Linked DNA regions of Homo sapiens. The gene in region 2 interacts genetically with the main gene of each other region. Each region holds a gene or a part of one and is shown on either strand. Other genes may lie near its edges.

Region 1 (3,500 bases), on a different chromosome or scaffold from region 2:
TGACAAGCGAAAACCTCTCTTGACATTGCCCAGCGTCGCCTGGGCACCTCAATCACCAGACAGAACCATGCGTCTAAACATGAGTCAAGCAACTCATCCCCACCCACAGCAAGCCAGGCGCAATGTCTAGTGAACGAAGGACACTGCAGGGGCATGGCCTGACCAGGGGCCTCTGGCACCGCGCCCAGTGTGGCCTCAACACAGGTGTCTCCCTAAGCGTTTCTGGTGCTCTCAAAGGAGCTGAGTGGGACTGGGCCTTGTCCTGGTAGACCAGAGGCTGTCTAGATGGTCTCTATGGTGGGAGCACAGCGACAAGCTGAGAAAGCAGAGACCTCAGGGTTCTGAGGAAGCCCAGGGCAAGGAGTGAACTAGGGGGTCCAGGCAGGAGAGAACAGGAGGAAGAGACACACAGATGGGGTGGAGAAGAGGCCCCAGAGGCAGTGAGCTGGGAACAGTGGGGAGAGGGAGAGGAGTGACCCGGAACACAGAGGTGACCAACAAGGAGAGCAAGAGGAACTGGAGAGGGGAGGGCTGAATGGAGAAAGATGATGGGGAAGCAAGGACCAGGACAAGGGTTGGGGGCTGGGGGAGGCCTGCGGCCAGGAGCTGGTCTGAGGGGCGGTGCGAGGCGGAAGGATGGGAAGAGCAAAGGCAGAAGGGAGCTTGGCACCACATACGTTTTGATCATGGCCTTGAGGGCGACCTTGCGCTCCCGATCTGCAAACTTGTCCACGAGGTAGCCAGACATGCAGGGTGCATGGCAGTAGAGCCGGAAAAAGCGGTGGTAGTTGCCCAGGGCCCAGGCTGTCCTTAATGCCAAGGCGTGGGCCACGCAAGGATCTGCCTTCAGTTCTCGTGTGAGGTATGCCAGCTCCGTGGTGATGTCTAGCACCAAGACAAAGAGGGTGAAGTCAGCAGGGCTCAACCCTGGGTACCATGGCCTCTGTCCTGGGGACTGGGCCTCACCTCCCGAGTTCTTGGTGAAGATGTAGTAGAGGATTCGGTAGGCAGTAAACTCGCCCACATTGCCAGGCAAGTTCTCGGCGTACAGCGACTTGAGCTGCGTCTGGCACTGGTTAAACTCTTCATGGTCACCCTGGAAGGCAGAGGCACCGAGGGAGGAGAGCAGAGTGAGGGTGCTGAGGGCAGAACGGCAGCAGGAAAGGGGCTGGGGAGGCCCGCAGAGGCCAGCTCACCTTCTCCAAGGCGATCCGGGCATGGGTCTCGTACACCTCCACCGTGAACTCGGTGCGGATGCCCTGCACCTGGGGCAGCGGGGCGAGAACAAGAGTCACAAGGAGCGGGAGGCAGGACTGGCTGAGGCCAGGCCCCTCCCAGCGCGAGTCTCACCGTCAGATCCTGCCGGATCGACTTCATCTGCTCGCAGGCAAACGCGTAGTCCTGCTTCTCTTTCCAGTGGCACTTGACCATGCACAGCGACTTTTTCAAAACCTGAAAAAGGGAACTGAATTCACACTCGGAGTACAACTCAGGTAGCGTGGCCAACGGCTTCCACTTATTTGGTGGGAGAGTTGCAACATTAAAAAAAGAAAAAAAAGGCCAGGCGCAGTGGCTCACGCCTGTAATCCCAGCACTTTGGGAGGCCGAGGTGTGTGGATCATCTGAGGTCAGGAGTTTGAGACCAACCTGGCCAACATGGTGAAACCCCGTCTCTACTAAAAATACAAAAATCAGCCAGGCGTAGTGGCAGACGCCTGTAATCCCAGCCACTAGGGAGGCTGAGGCAGGAGAATCGCTTGAAGCCGGGGAGCGGAGGCTGCGGTGAGCCAAGATCACGCCATTGCACTCCAGCTTGGGCGACAGAGCCAGACTCTCTCCCAAAAAAAGAGAAAACAAACCCACAAGACATGGGTTAAGAGTGGCCACCTCCACACCCATTTCCCTATAAGCACATGGCTGTTCACAGGTTCTGCAGCAGAACAGTGACTACGCCAAACACTGGAAACACAGCCCCCCACGCCCCACAGCCCACGGGCCTGGGAGAAGGCTTTATGCTCCGTGTCACCTAAGCCAGGAACCACGGCCCAGAGGTCAAGCGATTCGCCGGCCAAGCTGCACACCCGCCACGCGGGGCTCCAGGGCAGCAGAGCGCCTTTGCGCTCCTCTCAGAATGCCGACCAGCCGAGGCGTCTCTGGCCGAGCTTCCCCTGCCATACCAGAGCCCCCGTGTGGCCTCTGCCACCCTCCCTGGGTTGGCTCCCCAAGTCCTGAGCCAGCACGGCCTCACAGAGCAGAACTGCCCTGCTGGGCACTTACTGCCACAGGGCGCACGGTGGACGGGTCGGGGGCACAGGTGAGGCGCAGGTAGTGCTTGGTGATGTCAGGGCAGGTGCCCACGATCTGCAGCTCCTGCCAGTCAGGGTCAGCCCCACTGCTCTCCAGGCTGCTCATCTGCAGCACCAGGGGCTCGAGGCGCAGGCGGCGGGAGTGTCCGTGCTGGAAGCGGGCTGCCCGCTTCTGCTTCTTCAGCTCTCGCTCCGGGTCCTCACACTCCAGCGCCGCCATCTTCTTTCGACTGCGCTTGGTGGGCGCCAGATCGTGCCTAGGAAGGGATGAGGGGCAGTGAGCGCGACAGGCGTCTCCAGCCCCCCTTCAGCCTCGCCCCTTTGGCAGCTGGCTGTCCACCTGTCCGGCCCTCCTCCTCCTTCTCCCATGGGTCCCCAGTACCCTCCTCCACCCTGGCCCGTGTGTCGAGCCCTCACACAGTCTCACCTCTTCCCACGCTGCGCCCTGCCTCGGCCCCGATCCATATGGGCCCCTCGACCGCCCCGGCCCTTAGGGGGCGGGTTCCTGCGGCCCACAGGGTGACACTCATTCCCTGAGTAGGAGCTGTCGGAGTCTGAGTGGGAGTCACTGCAGGAAGAAGCAGGAGGGTCAGGCCTGAAACGCCTCCCCCTCCCTCACACACAGCCCCAGCCGGGAGCCTCAGTACCTTCTGCGGAAGTGGCGCGTCGGGGACCTGGAGGAGGAGCGGGAGCGGGAGTCTGTGCTGGAAGAAGAGCTGTTGTCCTTCATGAAGACGTTGCGGTTGCCAAACTTGGTGAAGCTGTTGCCCCGGGCTCGACCGGCACCCCCAGCCCCGGGCGTCCCTCGCTGGGACGGGGCACCCCCGCCCCTTGTCGCCGAGCCTGCCCCTCTAGGAGGGTGAAGGCTGCTAGCGGCCTCCCACCGCTTCTTCTTAGGGCTCTCAGCCACAGGCTCCCGGGTCAGCCTGAGAATACAGCAGGGCAGGGCGTCACCAACCCCGCCAGACACTGGCAGGACAGCCGCCACCACCTCCCTCAAGGTACCGACCCGCCTCCGAAAGGAAAGGCACTTACCCCAGGCGGCTCAGCTACTACAGTGCAGAAATGAGACGCGAACCCAGGTTTTCCGTCTCCAGAGGGTGCGCTTAACCACTGAGCAATGCACGCCTCTCCAGCACCCATGGTCCCCACCCCACCCCACCGGCCTCCCTCCAACCAGGACTTCATCCCCCC
Region 2 (3,500 bases):
CCACCTCCCTGTTTCCCTAGACAAGCCTGAGGAGCCGACGGCACATGCCTTTGTGAGCACCCTCACCCGGGGGGACCTGTCCTCCATCCGCTGGGTCTGCTCCTCGCTGCGCCATGCCCAGCCCACCTGCCCTGGCGCCCAGCTCTGCACGGTCTACTACGCCTCCCTCAACTTCCGCGACATCATGCTGGCCACTGGCAAGCTGTCCCCTGATGCCATCCCAGGTATGGGTGGCATGGGGCCGTGGGAGTGGACTGGGCCGGGGAGCAGAGACCCCAGCAGCTAGGACCTGCCTGGGAGCCCCTCGGGAGGGAAGGGCAGGCGGTGAGGGGCTCAGTGCCGTCTCCCCCAGGGAAGTGGACCTCCCAGGACAGCCTGCTAGGTATGGAGTTCTCGGGCCGAGACGCCAGCGGCAAGCGTGTGATGGGACTGGTGCCTGCCAAGGGCCTGGCCACCTCTGTCCTGCTGTCACCGGACTTCCTCTGGGATGTGCCTTCCAACTGGTGAGTGTGTCGAGGGTGTGAGCCTGGGCCCCACGTGGATGGCGGCCAGGCCTGTGCTGACCCACCTGCTGCATCCCCAGGACGCTGGAGGAGGCGGCCTCGGTGCCTGTCGTCTACAGCACGGCCTACTACGCGCTGGTGGTGCGTGGGCGGGTGCGCCCCGGGGAGACGCTGCTCATCCACTCGGGCTCGGGCGGCGTGGGCCAGGCCGCCATCGCCATCGCCCTCAGTCTGGGCTGCCGCGTCTTCACCACCGTGGGTAAGGCCCCGCCCCCGGTGCCTCCCGCTGCCCTCCTGGCCCCGCCGCCCTGGCTCACCAGCCGCGCTTCCTCTCTTCACCAGGGTCGGCTGAGAAGCGGGCGTACCTCCAGGCCAGGTTCCCCCAGCTCGACAGCACCAGCTTCGCCAACTCCCGGGACACATCCTTCGAGCAGCATGTGCTGTGGCACACGGGCGGGAAGGGTGAGTGGCCCCCACAGCCCCCACCTGCCTCCTGCCTAGCCTCCGGCCCAGGGAGAAGCAGGGTCTGGCCCTCTGGACTGTGGTGGCTGGGCTTGCAGTGGGTGTGATTGTCTGGCCCCTCTGGCCCCCTAGGCGTTGACCTGGTCTTGAACTCCTTGGCGGAAGAGAAGCTGCAGGCCAGCGTGAGGTGCTTGGCTACGCACGGTCGCTTCCTGGAAATTGGCAAATTCGACCTTTCTCAGAACCACCCGCTCGGTGAGGCCGGCAGCGCCTGGGCGGGGGTGGGCATGGATGGGTGTGGGTGGACCTGTGGAAGGCCCTGGGTGAGCACGGCCCCTGCCCGCAGGCATGGCTATCTTCCTGAAGAACGTGACATTCCACGGGGTCCTACTGGATGCGTTCTTCAACGAGAGCAGTGCTGACTGGCGGGAGGTGTGGGCGCTTGTGCAGGCCGGCATCCGGGATGGGGTGGTACGGCCCCTCAAGTGCACGGTGTTCCATGGGGCCCAGGTGGAGGACGCCTTCCGCTACATGGCCCAAGGGAAGCACATTGGCAAAGTCGTCGTGCAGGTGAGGGGAGGAGTCCCGGCGCCTCGGGCACCCCAGGCTCTGGTCCCCAGGCAGTGCCTGAGCCGGTGGGTGCTGCTTGGACGCAGGTGCTTGCGGAGGAGCCGGAGGCAGTGCTGAAGGGGGCCAAACCCAAGCTGATGTCGGCCATCTCCAAGACCTTCTGCCCGGCCCACAAGAGCTACATCATCGCTGGTGGTCTGGGTGGCTTCGGCCTGGAGTTGGCGCAGTGGCTGATACAGCGTGGGGTGCAGAAGCTCGTGTTGACTTCTCGCTCCGGGATCCGGACAGGTGAGTCGGCAGGGGTGCTTGTGGACCAGCCTGGGCCAGGCACAGCCCCGGGCCCCTGAGCCCTTCTCTGCAGCCCACCATTGTGGGCTGTCACGGTGCCTGGGGTCTGTCCCCCTCCATCTTGTGGGGGGCTTGCTGGATGGGGCTCTGCGGCTGCTCCCCACTTCCCCAGCCCGGCGTGTAGGGAAGAGACCGTACCCTGGCCCAGTCCAGCCCACAGTCCTGTGTCCCGCAGGCTACCAGGCCAAGCAGGTCCGCCGGTGGAGGCGCCAGGGCGTACAGGTGCAGGTGTCCACCAGCAACATCAGCTCACTGGAGGGGGCCCGGGGCCTCATTGCCGAGGCGGCGCAGCTTGGGCCCGTGGGCGGCGTCTTCAACCTGGCCGTGGTGAGGGAAGGCCCCAAATGGGGCCCTCAAAAGCCCCAAGACCAAGGGGGGGACCCTGGGTGGACGGGTGAGGCCCTGGAGCTGCAGGGAGTGCTGAGGATGCCTCCCCCAGGTCTTGAGAGATGGCTTGCTGGAGAACCAGACCCCAGAGTTCTTCCAGGACGTCTGCAAGCCCAAGTACAGCGGCACCCTGAACCTGGACAGGTGGGTACCGCACAGCCCTGCTCCCGCCTCTGCCGGGCTCTGGGCTCAGGGCCGTGGGAGCCAAGGTGGTTTGTTGACAGCCCTCTCTGGCGTTTCCTGGGGATGGGACGTTGGGGGCTCCTGGGGATGCTGGCCAATGGGGAGTGACACGCGTGCCCACAGGGTGACCCGAGAGGCGTGCCCTGAGCTGGACTACTTTGTGGTCTTCTCCTCTGTGAGCTGCGGGCGTGGCAATGCGGGACAGAGCAACTACGGCTTTGCCAATTCCGCCATGGAGCGTATCTGTGAGAAACGCCGGCACGAAGGCCTCCCAGGTGGGCCCCACCCTCTCCCCTCGACCCTGCCCACCCTGCCCTCTCCCAGTGGCCACTCCCCACCCCCACCTTCTCCCCGCAGCCCTGCCCACCCCACCCTCTCCCAGTGGCCACTCCCCACCCCGACCTCCCCGCAGCTCTGCCCACCTGCCCCCTCCCCCACAGGCCTGGCCGTGCAGTGGGGCGCCATCGGCGACGTGGGCATTTTGGTGGAGACGATGAGCACCAACGACACGATCGTCAGTGGCACGCTGCCCCAGCGCATGGCGTCCTGCCTGGAGGTGCTGGACCTCTTCCTGAACCAGCCCCACATGGTCCTGAGCAGCTTTGTGCTGGCTGAGAAGGCTGCGGCCTATAGGGACAGGGACAGCCAGCGGGACCTGGTGGAGGCCGTGGCACACATCCTGGGTGAGCACTCCCAGTAGGAGCCGCGCCAGGTGTTTCCCCTGCTGGCATCAGGGTCTTGGGACATAGCAGTCGTGCCCCTGTGCGCCTCAGTTTCCCCATCTGCAGAGCCAGGGTGCGGGCGCAGGTGTCACTGTGGTGGTGGTGCTTTGGGAGATGCACAGCCCACGCACCCCTGGGTGTCAGCCCTGCCGCATACAGGCCGTCCCCATGCCCCCTCTGGAGTTGCCGACCCGGCGCATCCCTTCCAGGCATCCGCGACTTGGCTGCTGTCAACCTGGACAGCTCACTGGCGGACCTGGGCCTGGACTCGCTCATGAGCGTGGAGGTGCGCCAGACGCTGGAGCGTGAGCTCAACCTGGTGCTG
Region 3 (3,500 bases), on a different chromosome or scaffold from region 2:
ACTGCTTCTGGGGAAAGGACACAGGGGTCATTTGGTCTTATTAGCTCTGAAATTAGCAGCTTCTGAAGGACTAAGTATTATCTAGAACCAGTTTTACATAAAACCACAGTGACATTTGGCAAACACATCTGAGAAATAAAAACAAATTGAAAAAACTTGTAAGAGGAAATTTAAAATTCTTCTTCATGCAAGAAAGGAAGAAAACTATATGTGAGTTCTCTTTTTCGTGTTAATATTAAAATTAGTTTGACTTGCTAATAAATAACAGCCAACCCATATGCCCTTGAGGCATTTGCAATCATAAAAGGAAATTAATCACCAATATCACAGAGTCAACAACCCATCCATGGATAATTGAGAAGTATTCTTTCCCAAATATCTTAAGTAATAAAGACCATCCTCCTAAGTGTCAGAAAAAGGGAGGCAACTTGAAATAGAGGAAGCAGCCCTGGGCCAGGCCTCAGGAGGCCTGGATTCTTGTCCTCAGGTAAGCCGCTAACTAGATATGTTACCCAGGAATCTCAGCCTCATTTTCAGAACTTGAAAACACTGCATAATTTGGAGTAATTATGTTGTTGAAAATAGTATGCTAATCTAAAATGTTTCTAAAGGGCAATGCCTTTTAGGTCACCAAATACAAAGACCCTTTCCGGGTGAAGATGGGCATTCCCCGTCTGTGCATTAGCGAGCCAGTACCTGGCTCCTACTCCCCGTTAAGAGGAGGGATAGGTGAGGCTGCAGGCAAAAGTGGGCAGCTGACTCCCCTACCTGTAGCTGGGCGGCGCAGCTCTCACAGCACACAGTGTGGCCACAGGGACAGAAGGTGGAGTTGATCTCCTCCTCGCAGCACACCATGCACAGCATGGCTTCCTTCAGCTTGCGTAGCTTCTCCTGCAGCACCCGGGTCTGCTGGCAGCTGAGGCCCTCGCAGCTGCTGCAGTTCATGCTGCTTTCTGAGGACTTCAGAGGCGAGTGTGAAGGGCTCTGGTTGTTTCTTGAAACGAGGTCCACAACGCCAGCATTGTACAGAGCCCTCCTGGCATGGTCATACACCTCCTTTGATGTTCTTTTAATATCAAAGACATATTTCTTGCCAAGGTTAATGTTTTCATTCAGAAACAGAGATGCCAAGTGGCCCTTCAAGTCACGGCTATACTGCATCATCACGGCGCTGGTCACTGTGTCACACCTGCAAGGCAAGATTGAACATCTACTTTAACACCAAAGAGCCTGGCAGCACCCTTATTCGCTGTTGTCAATAAGAACAGAAATGTCAGCAGATGTTTCATAGTCTCGTCTGCATGTATGAAAGTAAGTCCTTCCAGTTTTACGTCTGGTAAATATTCTCAGTGATTACACCTCTGTTTCTCTAACATCTCCTGACATTATGGCTTCCGTAAAGCAGTAAATACAGAGGGCAGTGAGCACGTACCTCCTCCCCAGGACAGACGCTACTGAGTGAAGTTGCTTATGGAAGAAAAAGGGCATCTGCCTGAAGTCTTGGCTTTTAGGTTAGAAATGTCTAAAAATTTCCCATCCTGTTTCACAATTTGTGTATCTATTTTAAAATAAAAAAGTTTAAAGTTGTCTACGACTTAAATTTCTTAGCTTTAATTGTCCAAATACGTGAGTCCAATCACAACTTGGCTTTAAAGTACCCTCTGAAATGAGGGAATCAATATTGCTATTAAAAAATCCTTCCATACACAGTGACGACTCAGGATAGCAGCTCTGCCAGAAAGAAAAGATGATCTGTGCTATCCTTCTCCTGAGCAGTGGAGCAGGCCCAGTCCCTCAGGGTTACCTTTAGGGTAATCAAACTTGGCTTTGAAGCTGAGTCCTAGACTAAGTAAATAATTATCCTCCCAGTTCCCTCATCTTTAACATTAGGGTAATAATAACCCCTTAGGGTTGTTGTATTGATTAAATAGGCATAGAAATCTCCTAACACACTTTGTGTCTAGATTAATGGCATAAGAGAATACGGTAGGAGGTAAGCAGAGAATGTGTTTGTGCAGCTCACACACATGCACCTTCTGTGGGTAAAACAAGACTACATTAATAAGGACTCCACTGCTACTACGGAAACAAAATGTTCAGAATTTCTTAAATTCTGTACTAGACTCATTGACACAACAATCCAAGGAACCGTAGAAACCTGGTTGTCACCTAAAAACCTGAGAGCTGTGGTGCTGAGGTGACCAAGCACACGAGATACGTGCCTGTAGAATGCGTGCGTCTCTGTTATCGCTCGGTAGAGCCCGCTGGCCGCCCTGGTGCTGATCATTTTAAACAAGAGCACGATGCTGTTCCCAGATTCCTTGGTGACCGTCAAATATACATTCTTTCCTGACTGGGTGGCCATCTGCACCACAGGATAAGCTATCCTAAGAGACAGGAAGAGAAAAGAAAGCAGATCTAGAAGGAGTGATTCTTCACCATGTGTGTGCCTTTGTGGGATCCCCATTTGCTCATGACCTAGCAGAAAAATCAGACGCTTCCTCTGGGGTTATCACATCACCATAATGCTGCCTTATTGTAAAGATACAGTGAAAAGCAGTTGGGCATATGTGGAGGGAAGTATGGGAGCAAGTGCTGGGTGTGCGCACATGCATGTCTAGAGCTGAAAACAAGTTTTTTATGGCAGTGAATGGGTTATTTGGAAAACGTTAACTCTGCCACATTGTATACCTTGAATAACATTTAAAATGGTTATTTAGGCCTGAATAAAATTAATGTACATACCAAAATGAAATCTTTCATTCCTAAGAGCTGACTGTCGAGTAAATCCCTTCCTATTTTCTATTACATTGACAGCTACAGATGTATACACATGCTTAGGTCAAAAAAAGTTAAGTCTTGGCTTACCTATTAATTGGGCTAAAGTCATCTTTACAAATTGAGATTCCTTCAGGTCCAACCCCAATGAGCAGTTTCTGCCCTTCGCTATCCCGCACAGAATGCCATTCTATGCCATAGTTTTCCATTGCCGACACAATCTGCAAAACTTGGTATTCAGCTGAAGCCTGGCTGGTCCCCTCCAACTCCTTATGTTTTGCAACAATGCTGGAGGACACCAAGAGGACAGAGAATTAAGTATACAGATATTAGCTTTAGAGATAAACCTATGTAGTCTTCACGAGTGAAATATACTAACACTGATGAATCACAACAACTTAAAACTTATGTATTACTGATGTTTCATGTATTTAGCGAACTTACTATAAAAAACGTCTAAGACACTGGGATCTCAACTATTAAATACTTGGTAAAAACACTTTGGGGATGCTGGATGGGTGATGAATTGGAAGAATTATGGAAAGTCTCTAAAAATATACATAAGTCAAATTTACATATTGGAAAGTCTCATGCATTTGTCCACATATAGTTTATAAGTATAAAGTTGACCCCTGAGGCCCCTGTGGCCAGGGAAGGAGGTAGGCCAACAAACCACAGGAGTCAACCTGGCATGGAGGCCACCCTCAGTCGAGCCTTCAGAT
Region 4 (3,500 bases), on a different chromosome or scaffold from region 2:
CTTCATCTTTAAAATGAAAGGTTCAGAGTCAATGAATTCCCAGGGCCCCTTCCCCTAACATGTCACTAGGGGCTCTTACCCAGTGGTTATATAATGGCAAGAAGGTACCACTGCCTGGCTGGGCCGGGGGACAGGAAGATGAGGTGAATGGCAAGCCAGCCACTCACCTGCAAGAAGTCAGTCATGCCTTGGAGAAAGGCAGGGACACCAGGCATCGCCACAGTGATGGTGGGAGAAGCCACACCAGACCCTCCAGCCCCTGGCCCTGCAGGCCCTAGCAGGTTCCCCAGAAGCTGAGAGAACTGAAGATCAGCCATGGAGGGTTGAGGGGTGGGTGGAGGCTGGGCAGGCCCCCCAGGAGCGGGGCCAGCTGTGGTAGCTGTGTTGGTGGTGCCAGCACTGGCAGAAGCAGTGGCAGGGGCTGGCGGTGGAGCCATACCTGGGGTCCCCTGAGCTGTAAGAAACCAAAAAAAGAAAGCTGGGCTGAGCATGGTGGCTCTTGGCTGTAATCCTAGCAACTTTGGGAGGCCAAGGCATGAGAACTGCTTGAGCCCAGGAGTCTAGGCCACATAGCAAGACCCCATCTCTACCAGAAAAAAAAAAAGACAATTACTAGCCAGGAGCTAGTACTGCTAGCTACTCAGGAGGCTGAGGTGGGAGAACTGTTTGAGCCCAGGAGTTCAAGGTTACAGTGAGCTTTAACTCACTGGATTGCACCATTGCACTCCAGTCTGGGTGACAGAGCAAGACTCTGTAACTTAAAAAAAAAAGAAAAAAGCTGGCCGGGCACGATGGCTCAAGCCTGTAATCCCAGCACTTTGGGAGGCCAAGGTGGGTGGATCACAAGGTCAAGAGTTCGAGACCATCCTGGCCAACATGGTGAAACCCCCTTCTCTACTAAAAACATAAAAAATTAGCTGGGCGTGGTGGCGTGCACCTGTAGTCCCAGCTACTCAGGAGGCTGAGGCAGGAGAATCACTTGAACCCGGGAGGCAGAGGTTGCAGTGAGCCAAGATTGTACACTGCACTCCAGCCTAGCAACAGAGTGAGACTCCATCTCAAAAAAAAAAAAAAAAAAAAAAAAAGCTGAAACCTGAAGACACAAGACACTACAGCAGCCCCATTCCAGGAAAGCAGGAACCAAGAAAATATGGAAAGAACTGGAAAGTGCCAGTGAGCAGACTAGGAAAGGAGTTTAAACTCTGAGTGGGGAAGAATGAAAACTCACCCACAAGGACTGGCTGCATAAGAAGCTGCCCCACAAGGCCGCTCACCATCTGGGCCAACGAGGCATTGGTACCCAGACCGGCGCCCTGCTGGATAGAGAGCAAGGGAGAATTTCAGACCTGCCCTTCCATGCACCACCACAGGAGTCTCTCCCTAGACTGTTACGCACTAGAACTCCCCGACCCTTGCTCACCAGTGTCCCAGAGACTGGGGGCCCTCCAGGATGGGAAGGCCGAGCCTGTGGAGGAGTGGGCCGGGCAATCACCACCCGGGTTGGAGCTGTTGGGAAGCCTGGCACCTGCTGTCCTGTGGGTGGCAGAAGAGACAGACCGAAGAGGGCTGAGGGCCAGGCCCTTGCCAGCCAGCTGCCACCATGGACTGTGCCCTACCTCCCAAGCCTCCCCTTCCAGGTCATTACCTGCGGCCGCGGAGGCAACAGCTGCCACCATGGCCTGATGAGTGATCTGGTGGGCGACGGCGTGCATGAACTCAGGGGGCAGGGAGGGCAGCTGGATGAGGGTGGAGCCTGGGGGGCGGGTCTGATGTAACCTTGAACCTGGACCCCTTCAACCCACCCACTCAGCCCTTCCCTTTCTCTACCCAGAGCTCAGCCTGCCCTGATGCCCTCACTCTTACCCAGGGTTTGGCCATGACCAGGGGGTCCCAGGGGGCCAGTGGGAGCACTCGGAACACCACCAGGCTGTGTGCCAGAATCTGGGCAGGGAGACAGAGACAGTGGCCCTGAGGTAGGTAGGGCCAAGGCCTAACTATATCCTTCTGAGATCAGGCATACTTCAGGCCCATAATCCCCCAATCAGAAAGCCTGCCTTTCCCTCCATCTAAACAGGGAGAGGTACTCCCTTCACCACACAAACACACCTCCAAAGACAAACCAACCCCCACACCCCCCACATCTGTCTACTTAAGCTTCTGCTCTGGTCCCCAGGCTACCACCACCAGCATGTGCCTCTCCCTTCCCCACCCTGTTCCCTCACACCTCAGCATGAACCTCCCTCATCATGCTGATCCTGCTCTTCTCGCCAGCAACTATTCTCACCTTGAATGTTCATGTGCATCATGACCACGGGTTCCACACTCTGGTGGGAAATCCGGATGACCCTCGGGTGGCTGGTGGCTGGCGGGGGAGCTGGACCTGGCGGGGGAGCCCCCTCAGCTGAGGACTCGACATTGGTAGAAGACGGAGCCACGGATGAGGCCTGCCCAGGACCAGGGGGAGGTGCCTCTGCATTGGGAGTTGGGGGGGGCCGAGTCCCATTTCCTGTCATGGTCACAGTGGTTCCCACATTGATCTGAAAAAGACAGATGGACAGGCAGATGTGAGAAAAATACAAGAGCCTAACCAAGAAAACCTCATGATAAACCTCTAAAGTATCTCCAGCCTTCATCACCATGTTTCCAGTCTCCTCCTTTCCTAACCTCCTTCAGGCCCAGTAGCTACCCTGGGTCACTCTATCAACACCCCTCACTCTCCCTCAGGCCAGACTCCCCCTAACCCACCTGTATGGGAATGGCTGCCTGCTGGAGCACCATGGGGGTGGTGTAGTGAGACATAGGCCGGACCACATGCAGGTGTCGTGGGGGCGTGCAGGCCAGATTGCAGCGCAGGTCAGACAGTGCAACAAAGGTGTTGCCCAGCAGTCGCAGGCTCTCCCCTACCAAGTTGATCAACCGCTGATCCTCCTCCCGGCCCTCGTGCTGCGCACAACCAGCCAAACACAAAAAGGCAGAAAATATCAAGCTGGAGTCCATCTCACTAATAAAAGCAATAATGCCTACTGAGAATACCATGTCCTCCAAAACTTTCAGTTATATCCTTGGAAGTTTACATGTAGACCAAATCTTTGCAAATAAATTATATCTTATTCACATAAGGAACATCCTATTAAAACACTACTATGAATCAGTAAGTCATCATATACTGATCTCCTGTACTTTACATTTTCTAAATTCATTCAGGGGCACAAGGGGTACGATACGAGGACAGTGCTTACAGCAAAGATTATCACCTTCTCTGTAAGGGAGGACAAAATCACTTACAGGTTTAGAGAGAAATTGTTTTGTTGCAATGTGTGTTTTTTTGTTTTGTTTTGTTTTTTGAGACAGTCTCGCTCTGTCACCCAGGCTAGAGTGCAGTAGTGCAATCTCGGCTCACTGCAACCCCCTCCTCCCGAGTTCTAGCGATTCTCCTGCCTCAGCCTCCTGAGTAGCTGGGATTACAGGTGTGCACCACTACATCCAGCTAATGTTTATAT

What was found. A genetic interaction does not mean that the proteins touch.
Region 1: changes in FASN (region 2) and LENG8 together harm fitness more than expected from each alone (negative genetic interaction), as found in Homo sapiens cells (one large-scale study listed by BioGRID).
Region 3: changes in FASN (region 2) and MYLIP together harm fitness less than expected from each alone (positive genetic interaction), as found in Homo sapiens cells (one large-scale study listed by BioGRID).
Region 4: changes in FASN (region 2) and BAG6 together harm fitness more than expected from each alone (negative genetic interaction), as found in Homo sapiens cells (one large-scale study listed by BioGRID).

Annotation. Positions count from the first base shown.
Region 1 is NC_000019.10:54,455,699-54,459,198, reverse strand, and holds part of LENG8 (leukocyte receptor cluster member 8), read right to left. Parts: intron 3,233-3,500; coding exon 2,954-3,232; intron 2,875-2,953; coding exon 2,734-2,874; intron 2,564-2,733; coding exon 2,278-2,563; intron 1,453-2,277; coding exon 1,351-1,452; intron 1,266-1,350; coding exon 1,197-1,265; intron 1,097-1,196; coding exon 967-1,096; intron 886-966; coding exon 678-885; coding exon of another isoform or gene 293-677; exon of another isoform or gene 1-292.
Region 2 is NC_000017.11:82,081,237-82,084,736, reverse strand, and holds part of FASN (fatty acid synthase), read left to right. Parts: intron 1-20; coding exon 21-224; intron 225-352; coding exon 353-503; intron 504-583; coding exon 584-762; intron 763-845; coding exon 846-965; intron 966-1,097; coding exon 1,098-1,220; intron 1,221-1,311; coding exon 1,312-1,535; intron 1,536-1,621; coding exon 1,622-1,823; intron 1,824-2,058; coding exon 2,059-2,210; intron 2,211-2,322; coding exon 2,323-2,414; intron 2,415-2,576; coding exon 2,577-2,728; intron 2,729-2,893; coding exon 2,894-3,136; intron 3,137-3,384; coding exon 3,385-3,500. UniProt on the Homo sapiens protein: Fatty acid synthetase is a multifunctional enzyme that catalyzes the de novo biosynthesis of long-chain saturated fatty acids starting from acetyl-CoA and malonyl-CoA in the presence of NADPH.
Region 3 is NC_000006.12:16,142,586-16,146,085, reverse strand, and holds part of MYLIP (E3 ubiquitin-protein ligase MYLIP), read right to left. Parts: intron 3,067-3,500; coding exon 2,869-3,066; intron 2,388-2,868; coding exon 2,223-2,387; intron 1,190-2,222; coding exon 769-1,189; intron 1-768. UniProt on the Homo sapiens protein: E3 ubiquitin-protein ligase that mediates ubiquitination and subsequent proteasomal degradation of myosin regulatory light chain (MRLC), LDLR, VLDLR and LRP8. Activity depends on E2 enzymes of the UBE2D family.
Region 4 is NC_000006.12:31,642,662-31,646,161, forward strand, and holds part of BAG6 (large proline-rich protein BAG6), read right to left. Parts: intron 2,944-3,500; coding exon 2,746-2,943; intron 2,538-2,745; coding exon 2,285-2,537; intron 1,969-2,284; coding exon of another isoform or gene 1,942-1,968; coding exon 1,864-1,941; intron 1,754-1,863; coding exon 1,646-1,753; intron 1,534-1,645; coding exon 1,421-1,533; intron 1,317-1,420; coding exon 1,229-1,316; intron 455-1,228; coding exon 168-454; intron 1-167. UniProt on the Homo sapiens protein: ATP-independent molecular chaperone preventing the aggregation of misfolded and hydrophobic patches-containing proteins.